2 separate regions of the Homo sapiens genome follow, and region 1 is linked to region 2. The links come from fine-mapping of genetic effects on gene expression. Tissue or cell type: cerebral cortex. Region 2 holds a variant in brackets; the other region holds the start of a gene. All regions are shown on one strand. Distances are from middle to middle. Region 1 holds the start of AIG1 (androgen induced 1). Region 2 overlaps AIG1 (androgen induced 1).

Region 1 (5,381 bases), 280 kb before region 2:
CAAATATGGAATCATCATAAGAATACTTAGAAGTGAATAATGTATTATAGTTCATAAAAAGTAATAACTTACCTAATGAAGTTTTAAAAGCAATTGTTTACGCTGTAAAAACACAATGTGTGTAGATTAATATTTTCCACAAAAGTTATCTGTAAAACATGACTAAGATTGTTAGATATGGTCTGAAAAGCACAGAAAGCAAGCCTGGACATGTTAATAGTTATCAAGAAGTTCCAAAAATTGTGAACTGACATTCTCATAAAATAGTATTTGAGTCAAGTTTTATACAAACGCTTCATTTTTTTAAAGCACAAAACTATCTGATCATGGTTGGCAAATCATGAAAAAACAAAAGCAAACCCAGCAGAATAGGTTCTAAATACTTAATTAAGAGTTATAGTTATTTATTTAAAAGAAACTGGTCGGGCGCAGTGACTCACACCTGTAATCCCAGCACTTTGGGAGGCCGAGGCAGGTGGATCATTTGAAGTCAGGAGTTCAAGACCAACCTGGCCAACATGGTGAAACCCCATCTCTACTAAAGATACAAAAAAAATTAGCCAGGTGTGGTGGCATGCGCCTGTAGTCCCAGCTACTTGGGAGGCTGAGGCAGGAGAATAGTTGAACCCAGGAGGCAGAGGTTGCAGTGAGCTGAGATCATGCCACTGCACTTCCGCCTGGGTGACAGAGCTAGACTCTGTCTCACAAAAAAACAAAAAGAAAAACAAAACAAAAAACCTGACCATTAAAAATGGCTTTATGAAAATATTATTTCATTTTGTAACAATGGGGTTGGGGAGTCTTAATAATTGTCTAACATGTAAAGTAGGAAGGGTATATCAAACTTTGCAAATATCACATTAACTCATAAAACTTTATTAAGGCTCTATTGAGAGGTGAGGCCAGCTGGACCTCCTGAGACAAGTGGGGACTTGGGGAACTTGCCTGTCTTACAAGAGGAGTGTAAAATGCACCAATCAGCGCTCTGTAAAAAGCACCAATCAGCACTCTGTAAAACACACTAATCAGCACTCTGTAAAACGCACCAATCAGCAAGATTTTAAAAGTAGCCAATCGCAGGGAGGACTGAAAAAAGGGCACTCTCATAGGACAGAAACAGAACACTGGAGAGGACAATAAGGGAATAAAAGCTGGCCACCCCAGCCAGCAGCAGCAACCCGCTCCAGTCCCCTTTCATGCTGTGGAAGCTTTGTCCTTTCACTCTTCACAATAAACCTTGCTATCGCTCACTCTGGGTCTGTGCCATCTTTAAGAGCTGTAACACTTACCACCAAGGTCTGCCGCTTCATTCTTGAAGTCACTGAGACCACTAATCTACCGGCAGGAACCAATTCCAGACACATTATTAAGGTAGGTAGATCTTCAATAGATCTACTCTTTTTTATTTTTATTTTTTTGGCAGTTTATAACCATGTACCAAGGATGCACAATTAAAAAAATAAAGCCAACTTTTACATTAAGATTTAACCAAAAATCATCAATAATACATCGTTTTAATGCTAGTAGAATCTTCTTCTGACATCAGTTCTATTAGCATAATTATAATGCCAATTAAAAAAATCTAGTGGGTCTCTTCATTTTAGTTTAGAGCTTGATTGGAAACATTCAGGAAAACATCCATGGCTTGCTTGCTACTTTCTCTTTACCTCTAGCACTATGCTTCTCCCCACCAGCCCTCCCTCCACATCCTCTGACTCAGAGACTATTTGAAGAGGACACCTGTTTTAAATGGATCCACAGGAAATACCTATGTTGCCTTTTCATAATCCGAACCTGCAACTGGTTGGCTGAAATGAAAATGTTGCCCACAGACTGATGCAACTTCAGTGTGACAACATTTACTGGAAGGCAGGAGGGACTCCAGTTTATATTTATTTTCCTTCCATTAAGCCCTGGTAGTGTAGTGTAAGAAAAAAGTAAGGGCAAAACCAGTTTAACAACCAGATGATTAGTATTAAATTACACGCAGGGGTTTTACATCCAAAATTGGAATTTTTTAAAGCTGAATGCAATCTTGTGGCAGAAAGTTATTTGAAAATCCTTTCTTTATAGCTTTTTATCTATAAACCTCTTGTCCAAAGTTCATATTCTAGCTGATGTTATATACTGATATGACATTATTCAATCTGTCATGGAAAAGTGCTGCGTAGCCTACCCATTGAAAGCAGAATTGAGAGAGTTTCCTAGTGATTGACAGTCGTTTGTCAACACTGAAAACCTTATTGCCCCAAAATACTGAAAGTCACTCGCGGCTGCCTGTGCTCGGGTTTACACCCCACGTTCACACCCCCACCGGATCCCTCCGCACGGGGCACCAGCTCTCGGCCAACTGCAACTACCCCAGGAAGCGTCACCGCGATTCCGGGGCGGGAACATTTGTGGACACTGGGGTCCACTCCTTCAGTCTAGGTTCCCCGCCCCCTCGCCCGGCCCGGCGCCCACTAGCCACAGGGCCCGCTTCCCCCTGGAGATCAGCGCGCACTTCCCGAGCCCTCGTAGCACTCAGAGGTCGCATCCACACCTGGGATGCCTAGGGGGCGCCTCCTGGCCGGGTGTCCCGGGACCCTGCGAACGCAGGAGCAGAATGACGAAGGTGACGAAAGAGATGACGACACGCCGCCTGCCAGGCCGCGGCCGGCAGTGGAGAGCGTCCGCAAACCGCGCCCGGCCAGTACAGGTCACCCGGGCGCTCGCGGCCGCGCCAGTCCCCGGGGGCGCGCGCCCCGCCCCCGCCCCCGCCCCCGCCCCGCCCCGCCCCGCGCCCGCGCCCGCGCCCGGGTTCCCACGGCGCCCGCCCCCGCGCGCCCGGCGCCTCCCTCACGCCCGCCCTCCTTGCCGCCCAGCCGGTCCAGGCCTCTGGCGAACATGGCGCTTGTCCCCTGCCAGGTGCTGCGGATGGCAATCCTGCTGTCTTACTGCTCTATCCTGTGTAACTACAAGGCCATCGAAATGCCCTCACACCAGACCTACGGAGGGAGCTGGAAATTCCTGACGTTCATTGATCTGGTAAGGCCGTCCCCTCCCCCTGCTCGCCCCGCACCCCGTGCCTGTGTGTGCGTGTGTGTGTGTGTGTGTGTGTGTGTGTGTGGATGCGCGAGCACCTGCGCACGTGCGCGCCTCCAGCATCCACCCGTGTCCTCGCCTCTTCCCCAGTGATTGCGTGTGAAGGCCTGGCTGCCCCCGCAGCGGCACCTTCTGAACCACTCACCGTTACCTGGTAGCTGGGTACCCTTACCTGGCAACTGGGGGACAAATGGAGGTGGGGCGCAGCCAGGTGGTGGGCTCTTTGGAGGGGGACACCGAACTGCTTCTAAGAGGTGACACGGGAAGAATCTTCAACAAAAGCATCGGACCTGATCCTGAATGGCCTGAGACCCATTCGCCCTCAAGGTGCTTTTCAGAGCACCCACCGTGGGATGAACTTGTTGCAACTGAAGGAAACTGGGTATTGTCTAGTGATTTGGAACTTCACCTGAAAGAACCAAATCCTTCTCATAAGGGAGAGAAAGCACCTAATAAAGTTGTCTTCTTTGCATCTGTTTTTTTCCCCCATTGTCAATAATTTACTTTCAACCTTTACCCCGTACATATTAGGAGACAGAGATGTTCAAAGTGCATTTCCAAGGTGACTGTACACACTTCTCTGTCTTCCCATGTACAAATTTACAGTAGTTTGCATAAGCAGCTCCTCTGTTGGCACAATATGATAATCTTGACAGGTGCAGGTTATTATTAGTATATCATTTTGAAAGTTTTTCTATTTCTGGCACTAAAAGGCCCTCTTCAACCTCCCTGGAGAACAGAACATGGGCATAAGGCCCAATAATGAACTCATGGATGGACCTAGGAATTTCAGGGTAAAGGTGACTAAGACACACGCTAAAAGATTATTAGGAAGAGGCTTAAAACAAAAGCAATGAAGTTCTAAAGCACTCAGAGAAATTGTAGAACCAATTCCTGGGACTCCCTGAACTGTTTATCCAAGACTATACAGTTGGTTGGCTACACCAGCAAGATTATAATCTCTTGTTGACCCTCCATTCTGATGAAGAGAACATGATACCTGTTTTAAAAATTTCCAAAGGCTTAGGATGCCTCAAAGAAATGCAGAGAGGCTTTTGGTTTAAAAATAACACCTTATATTTGCATTATATTAGATACTTTCAGAGTGGAATTTCAATTCTGTTGCCCAGCAGTCTCCAAACTGTGCACATACCCTTAGGCCCACAAGACTTCACAGGGTATAGAATGTTGCAAGGGTTTTAATTTTCAGATCCTCATCTTCCAACTCTGCTTGAAACTAATTTCCCTCTGAACATGCGTGATGCCTGCCAGTTCTCCTTTCATTCTCCCCATTCATCCAAGTGAGGAGCCCGTGACAAGACTCTGAGGTGTGCTTTTCTGTCTGTTCCTTTTAGCTTCCAGAAGATAGATGGTTGTCACCAGGGCTATCTTTATATTTGATTGAACAACAATGTCGGAGTTGCCTTGACAGAAAGTCTTATTGGGTTGATTGGCTTGTCAATGAGGATTGGCTTTGCCAATTATGTTGTGTAGCAGACATTTTCTGTATACTGAATGAGCTAAATCTGCAACCCTGAGGTTCTGATGCATATGTATATGAAGCAAGCATACCACCCATAGAGCGCCAGAAAGATGTCCCTTTTTCAAGTGTTTACACTTAACTATGTTAAGGATGTTGAGATGTTATTTAAAAATATGTGCATAGATTTTCAGAATTCTTTGAGGGGCTATGTGAGCAAAACTCCTTTTGGGACACTGCCTTATCCCATTCCTAAGTCAGATCTTACTTAGAGCTGGCCTATTTGAATGTTGCTAAAGAGCAGTGCTGGGCAAGAATACAGAGATGCTGTGGGAGCCATAGGTTCTAGAAACAGCCCTCAGCATCACTCTTGCAGTAGATGCTGTGTTGTGGGAGCAAGGCAGGGGTCAGCAGGTGAACAGAGGTAGAAATTGAGGGTGTTGGTTAACCCAAGAGATGCCTGCTTTTCATAATTAGCATTGCTTACTGTGCATTGAAAAACAAGGCTCAGAAGAAATGATATACCTCTCATAACCTTTGTGTGACATGAAACCATAGTAGAGTCAGCTTGATATGCTGTCATATAATTTATCTTTTAGCATTCAATGATTGGACTTGCCTGTTTTAAATACTAATCACCATACAGGACTTTTTCTATCCCAGAAGTCAGACAGTAGATTCAAATGTGAAACATTTACTTTGCTTCATATTTAGCTTCAGATTGTATAGGACCTTTAGCCAGCGTTGTAATTTTTTACTCTGTGGCTCCTGATTGAAACATAATAATTATCTTTAACAAAGAGTGCCTGTGAGAAAG
Region 2 (5,381 bases):
ACAGAGCTGAGGTTCAAGACACATGTGCTGTTTGAGCTGAATCTGTGCTGTTTTCTTCTTTCCGTGGTTACCCAACAACGAAGGCGTGTTGTACCTTCTTGCCTTCAAACCTGTTCCTCCTCCCGTCAGATGTCCTTACTCCTCAATTTGAAGTTTTCCTTCATAGGATTTCTGAGAAGGACTTTGGAAAAAGTGCTCCAGATCTCTGCCAGTTCCTTAGCCATGAAAACCAAACATAAAAGATCATCTGGGGACATTCATTCAGAGCACGTTACCCACATTCCACCACCACTACTCTGACAGCACAAAACATATACCAGGAGCTGGGGTTATGTGGTGGGGGAGTCCTTCCTATTGTAAGCCCTAACATTATGACCCTCTGGGGTTAAATTTTATAATTTTCATATTGTGGAGTCCCATATTTTGTTCTGCTTTCCACTAGTCCAGGCTTCTGAGGTCTTCTCTGTGTTCATTGCTTATTAATTTTATTCAGCAAAGATTAATTGAGCTCCTGCAATGAGACACACACACTATGTTAGGTGCTGGGGAACAAAATAGGGAAGGGCCCTACCCTCAGAAAGCTTGCAATTTATGAAAGAATACTAACAAAACCTGCAAAGTGGTATTTTAAGTTATTTTGTTTCATTTTTGCTATTGAAACAAAGAAACTGAGAATTTGGTATGATTCAAAAAATGTTTAGGTACAAGAAAAAGAAAAAAGCAAGAAGCACTTGCCAGATTTAACTATAATTCCTAAAAATGATGAACATTTTCATCTTCAGGAACATGAAACATCATCGACTATTCTCTACAGACAACAGGCAAAGGTTCTTACTGGTCCAGTACATACAAGTCCTTCAGGAAGAAAAACATGATTCTACCAGGATTGGGTTGAATAGAGAGAGAATTGCAGTTTAAGATTCATGAGTATGGAAATAAACAGCTCTTATGGCTAATAAACTCTCTATGAACTTTAAAAAGAAAACAAGAAAAAAAAAAGCATGGCTTTTTAAAATCCAAAGTCCTTGCCTTAGGAAGAGACAGGACTAAAGTAAAAATAAATGAAGTCTGTTTGAAACTCATGAGTTGCACACCTCATGTTGCCAGAAGCTGGTTTAAAAAGCAGTCTAGCTGGGATTTCCATGCAAACTCAGCAAGTCATGAATCAACTTGAAGCCTTGTCTCCCAGAGGCCATAGGAGCTGGGTGTGTCCCAGAGATGCTGTGTCCTGATTCTGTGGAAAGGGTGGGGAAGAGAGGTCACTGAGGATGTTTCTGGAGAAAGTTGTGCATGGCTTTCCTTCTTAGCTAGGAGGGAATAGGGGGTGTGTCAGGAGGGTGAATGGGAGAAGTGAGGGCAGATGAGTGGATGTGTGAGTAGTGTTAGCAAGCCAGATTAAACAAACTGCTTGTGGTTTAATCTGATGCTCAAATAAAACACTTTGCCTGTATTTCTAGGTATGGAAGAAGAGAAAGAAAAGCCTAAATTGGAATGAGATCCAAGTCTAAACGCAAGAGCTAGATTGAGCCGCCATTGAAGACTCCTTCCCCTCGGGCATTGGCAGTGGGGGAGAAAAGGCTTCAAAGGAACTTGGTGGCATCAGCACCCCCCTCCCCCAATGAGGACACCTTTTATATATAAATATGTATAAACATAGAATACAGTTGTTTCCAAAAGAACTCACCCTCACTGTGTGTTAAAGAATTCTTCCCAAAGTCATTACTGATAATAACATTTTTTCCTTTTCTAGTTTTAAAACCAGAATTGGACCTTGGATTTTTATTTTGGCAATTGTAACTCCATCTAATCAAGAAAGAATAAAAGTTTATTGCACTTCTTTTTGAGAAATATGTTAAAGTCAAAGGGGCATATATAGAGTAAGGCTTTTGTGTATTTAATCCTAAAGGTGGCTGTAATCATGAACCTAGGCCACCATGGGGACCTGAGAGGGAAGGGGACAGATGTTTCTCATTGCATAATGTCACAGTTGCCTCAAATGAGCACCATTTGTAATAATGATGTCAATTTCATGAAAAGCCTGAGTGTATTGCATCTCTTGATTTAATCATGTGAAACTTTTCCTAGATGCAAATGCTGACTAATAAAGACAAAGCCACCCTGAACCTGACGTCTGCATTGTGCATCTCAAAATCCTAACAGCATTAGTATCTCCTTTTCATTTTTATTACCTGTTGAAAATGGGTTTACTGAACCTGGTTCTTTCCTATAATTTTTGGATTTTAAAAAATGTGAATCTTTTTGATAACTCCAAAACAAATTTTTTTTTTCTTTTTTTCCAGATGGAGTCTCACTCTGTCGCCCAGGCTGGAGTACAGTGGCGTGATCTCAGCTCACGGCAAGCTCCGCTTCCCGGGTTCATGCCATTCTCCTGCCTTCTCAGCCTCCCGAGTAGCTGGGACTACAGGCGCCTGCCACACGCCCGGCTTATTTTTTGTATTTTTAGTAGAGACGGGGTTTCACCTTGTTAGCCAGGATGGTCTCGATCTCCTGACCTTGTGATCCACACGCCTCGGCCTCCCAAAGTGCTGGGATTACAGACATGAACCACCGCGCCCAGCCACAAAATTGTTTTTAAAAAAACTATTTTACAAAATCTTTGACCGTAATTATTTTTAAGATGAAAAATATGTTATATAAATTATAAAATGTTACTTAACACAAATATAAGTATTGATTGCCCAATGTTGAGAGAGATCAACAAATGATATAAAACCATTCACTCCAAAATTATAATTACATTTTAAAATTAAAAAATGAAAAGCATTAAACTTTTTAATTTGAAAAAAATTTAAACTCAAAAAGTTAATTTAAAATTAGTTACATTTAAATGTAATTAAATGCTAAAAATCTCTCTTCCTTCCGTCTCTCTGTCTCTCTCTTTCTCCCACACACATTCACTCTATATGCCCCCCATTTCTGAAAGCAAAATTGATAGAAATATAGAATGCATCTAGCAGCATTACCATATTAGTTTCCTAACTCATGGAGCTGGGACTTTTAAGTAGGAAAGTCAAGCAGAAATCCACCAAAACAGAAAAGCACAGCA[A/G]TACCACATCCTTGGAATGACTGCTGCAGTTAGTACAGGATCAAAGACTTGAAGGATCCAGAGTTGGTTTCCATCACAACTACATGTATCTTACCTGTCTGACCTCTATTATGGGTTACATTGTGGCACTGTGTCCCCCTAAAATTTATATGTTGAACCCGTAACCCCTAGTGCCTTAGAATATGACTGTTTTTGGAGACAGGGCCTTTAAAGAGGGGATTAAGTTAAAATGAGGCCATTAAAATGGGCCCTAATCCAATCTGAGTAGTATCTTTGTAAAAAGGGGGAATTAGGACACACAAAGGGACACCAGGAATGTACATACACAGAGGAAAGACCATGTGAGGGCATGGGAAGAAGGTTGCCAACTGCAAGCCAAGGAGAGAGGACTCAGAGGAACCAAACCTGCTGACACCTTGATCTTGGACTTCTAGCCACCAGAACTTTGAGAAAATAAATTAATATTGTTTAAGCCACCAGTCAGTGGACTGACATTTTGCTATGTCAGTAACAGCAAATTAATACGAACTGTGTACAAACGATGGATGAATTTTGGAGGATGATAAATTATTGTAAGCTTACTTAGGCGGTGGCTCCACTGATAGCAGTGTTTCCAGAAGTCTTTTTGCTGGAGTAAAACAATATAATCCCTGGGATATCGAATGAAGGTACTAAAAAATTTTTTTTTGTTTTTGAAACGGAGTTTTGCTCTTGTTTCCCAGGCTGGAGTGCAATGGCACCATCTCAGCTCCCTGCAATCTCCGCCTCCCTGGTTCAAACGATTCTCCTGCCTCAACCTCCCAAGTAGCTGGGATTGCAGGCATGCACCACCAAGCCCTGCTAATTTTGTACTTTTCGTAGAGACGGGTTTCTCCATGTTGGTCAGGCTGGTCTCAAACTCCCGACCTTAGGTGATCACCCGCCTTGGCCTCTCAAAGTACTGGGATTACAGGCGTGAGCCATTGCGCCCGTCCTAAAATTTTCTTGTAGTGGGAAAATGGGGTGGCGAGGCTGGGCGCAGAGAGGCTGGGGCTGCGGCTCAGCGTGGGCTCCCCTGGTGCGCAGCAGCAGCTGCGAGGAGCTCACTGCGGTTCTAGCCCCGCCGCAGCTGCTTAGACGCAGGTTTAACTTCTTTATTCAGAAAAAAATGTGGTTCAGAAAAGAACCCAGTAAGGTTGAACCTCGAAGATCAGACACGGCAACAAGTGGTGAAGCATACAAGAGAAGTGCTTTGATTCCTCTGGTGGAAGAAACAGTCTTTTATCTTTCTCCCTATCCTATAAGGACTCTCATAAAACCTTTATTTTTTTACTGTTGGGTTTACAGGCTGTGCATTTGGATCAGCTGCTATTTGGCAATACGAATCACTGAAATCCAGGGGTCCAGAGTTATTTTGATGGCATAAAAGCTGATTGGTTGGATAGCATAAGACCACAAAAAGAAGGAGACTTCAGAAAGGAGATTAACAAGCGGTGGAATAACCTAAGTGATGGCCAGCGGACTCAGGTATCATAGCTGCAAACGTCCTTGTATTCTGTTTGTGGAGAGTACCTTCTCTGCAGTGGACAGTGATCTGATATTTCAAATCTAATCCAGCCTCAAAAGTCCGTTGTTCTCCAATGTTGCTGTCAACATTCAATCATTTCTCCTTATTTCACATGGCAGCAAATATGTATGTTTTGTGGAGCTTCTCCTTCAGTATAGTGAACATTCTGGGTCAAGAGCAGTTCATGGCAGTGTACCTATCTGCAGGTGTTATTTCCAATTTTGTCAGTTATGTGTGTAAAGTTGCCACACGAAGATATGGACCATCACTTGGTGCATCTCGCGCCATCATGATGATCCTCGCAGCTGTCCGCACTAAGATCCCAGAAGGGAGGCTTGCCATTATTTACTTCCAATGTTCACATTCACAGCAGGAAATGCCCTACAATCCATTAACGCCACGGATATGGCAGGAATGATCCTGGGACGGAAATTTTTTGATTATGCAGCACATCTTGGGGGAGCTCTCTTTGGAATATGGTATGTTACTTACCCTCATGAACTGATTTGGAAGAACAGGGAGCCTCTAGTGAAAATCTGGCATGAAATGAGGACTAATGCCCCCCCAAACAAGAGGTGGCTCTAAGTAAAACTGGGATTGCACAGTACCGGTGCACCTGTCTTGTCCTGCCGGAGAGCCCCAGGAGACATCGGCCCTAGAGTGATCATGGCTACGTTCCCGCCTGGAAGACGCCAGCATCTGGCCTCCCACTGTTTTCAGCTGTGTCCCCGGGTCCGTGTCTTTTCAGAAAGTGAAAATGACATAGTT

What was found. PIP is the estimated chance that this variant, and not a neighbour inherited with it, causes the effect. A credible set is the group of variants that fine-mapping cannot tell apart.
Region 1: it holds the start of AIG1, and the variant in region 2 is the best candidate, but not a certain one, in a credible set for the expression of AIG1 in cerebral cortex (GTEx, PIP 0.61).

What each region holds. Positions count from the first base shown.
Region 1 is chr6:143,058,040-143,063,420 of GRCh38, forward strand. It overlaps AIG1 (androgen induced 1), which reads left to right and starts at 2,850. Exons shown (of 6, transcript NM_016108.4): 1 at 2,850-3,027. The coding sequence starts at 2,887. RefSeq lists enhancers at 1,846-2,784, 2,610-2,739, 3,340-3,389 and silencers at 2,740-2,829, 3,080-3,149.
Region 2 is chr6:143,338,182-143,343,562 of GRCh38, forward strand. AIG1 (androgen induced 1) reads left to right here. Exons shown (of 6, transcript NM_016108.4): 6 at 1,458-2,877. The coding sequence ends at 1,495. It also overlaps the pseudogene PARLP2. Among named protein-coding and RNA genes, the nearest start is that of ADAT2, 110 kb to the right of the region's middle. The variant A/G (reference allele first, on the strand shown) is at 3,068.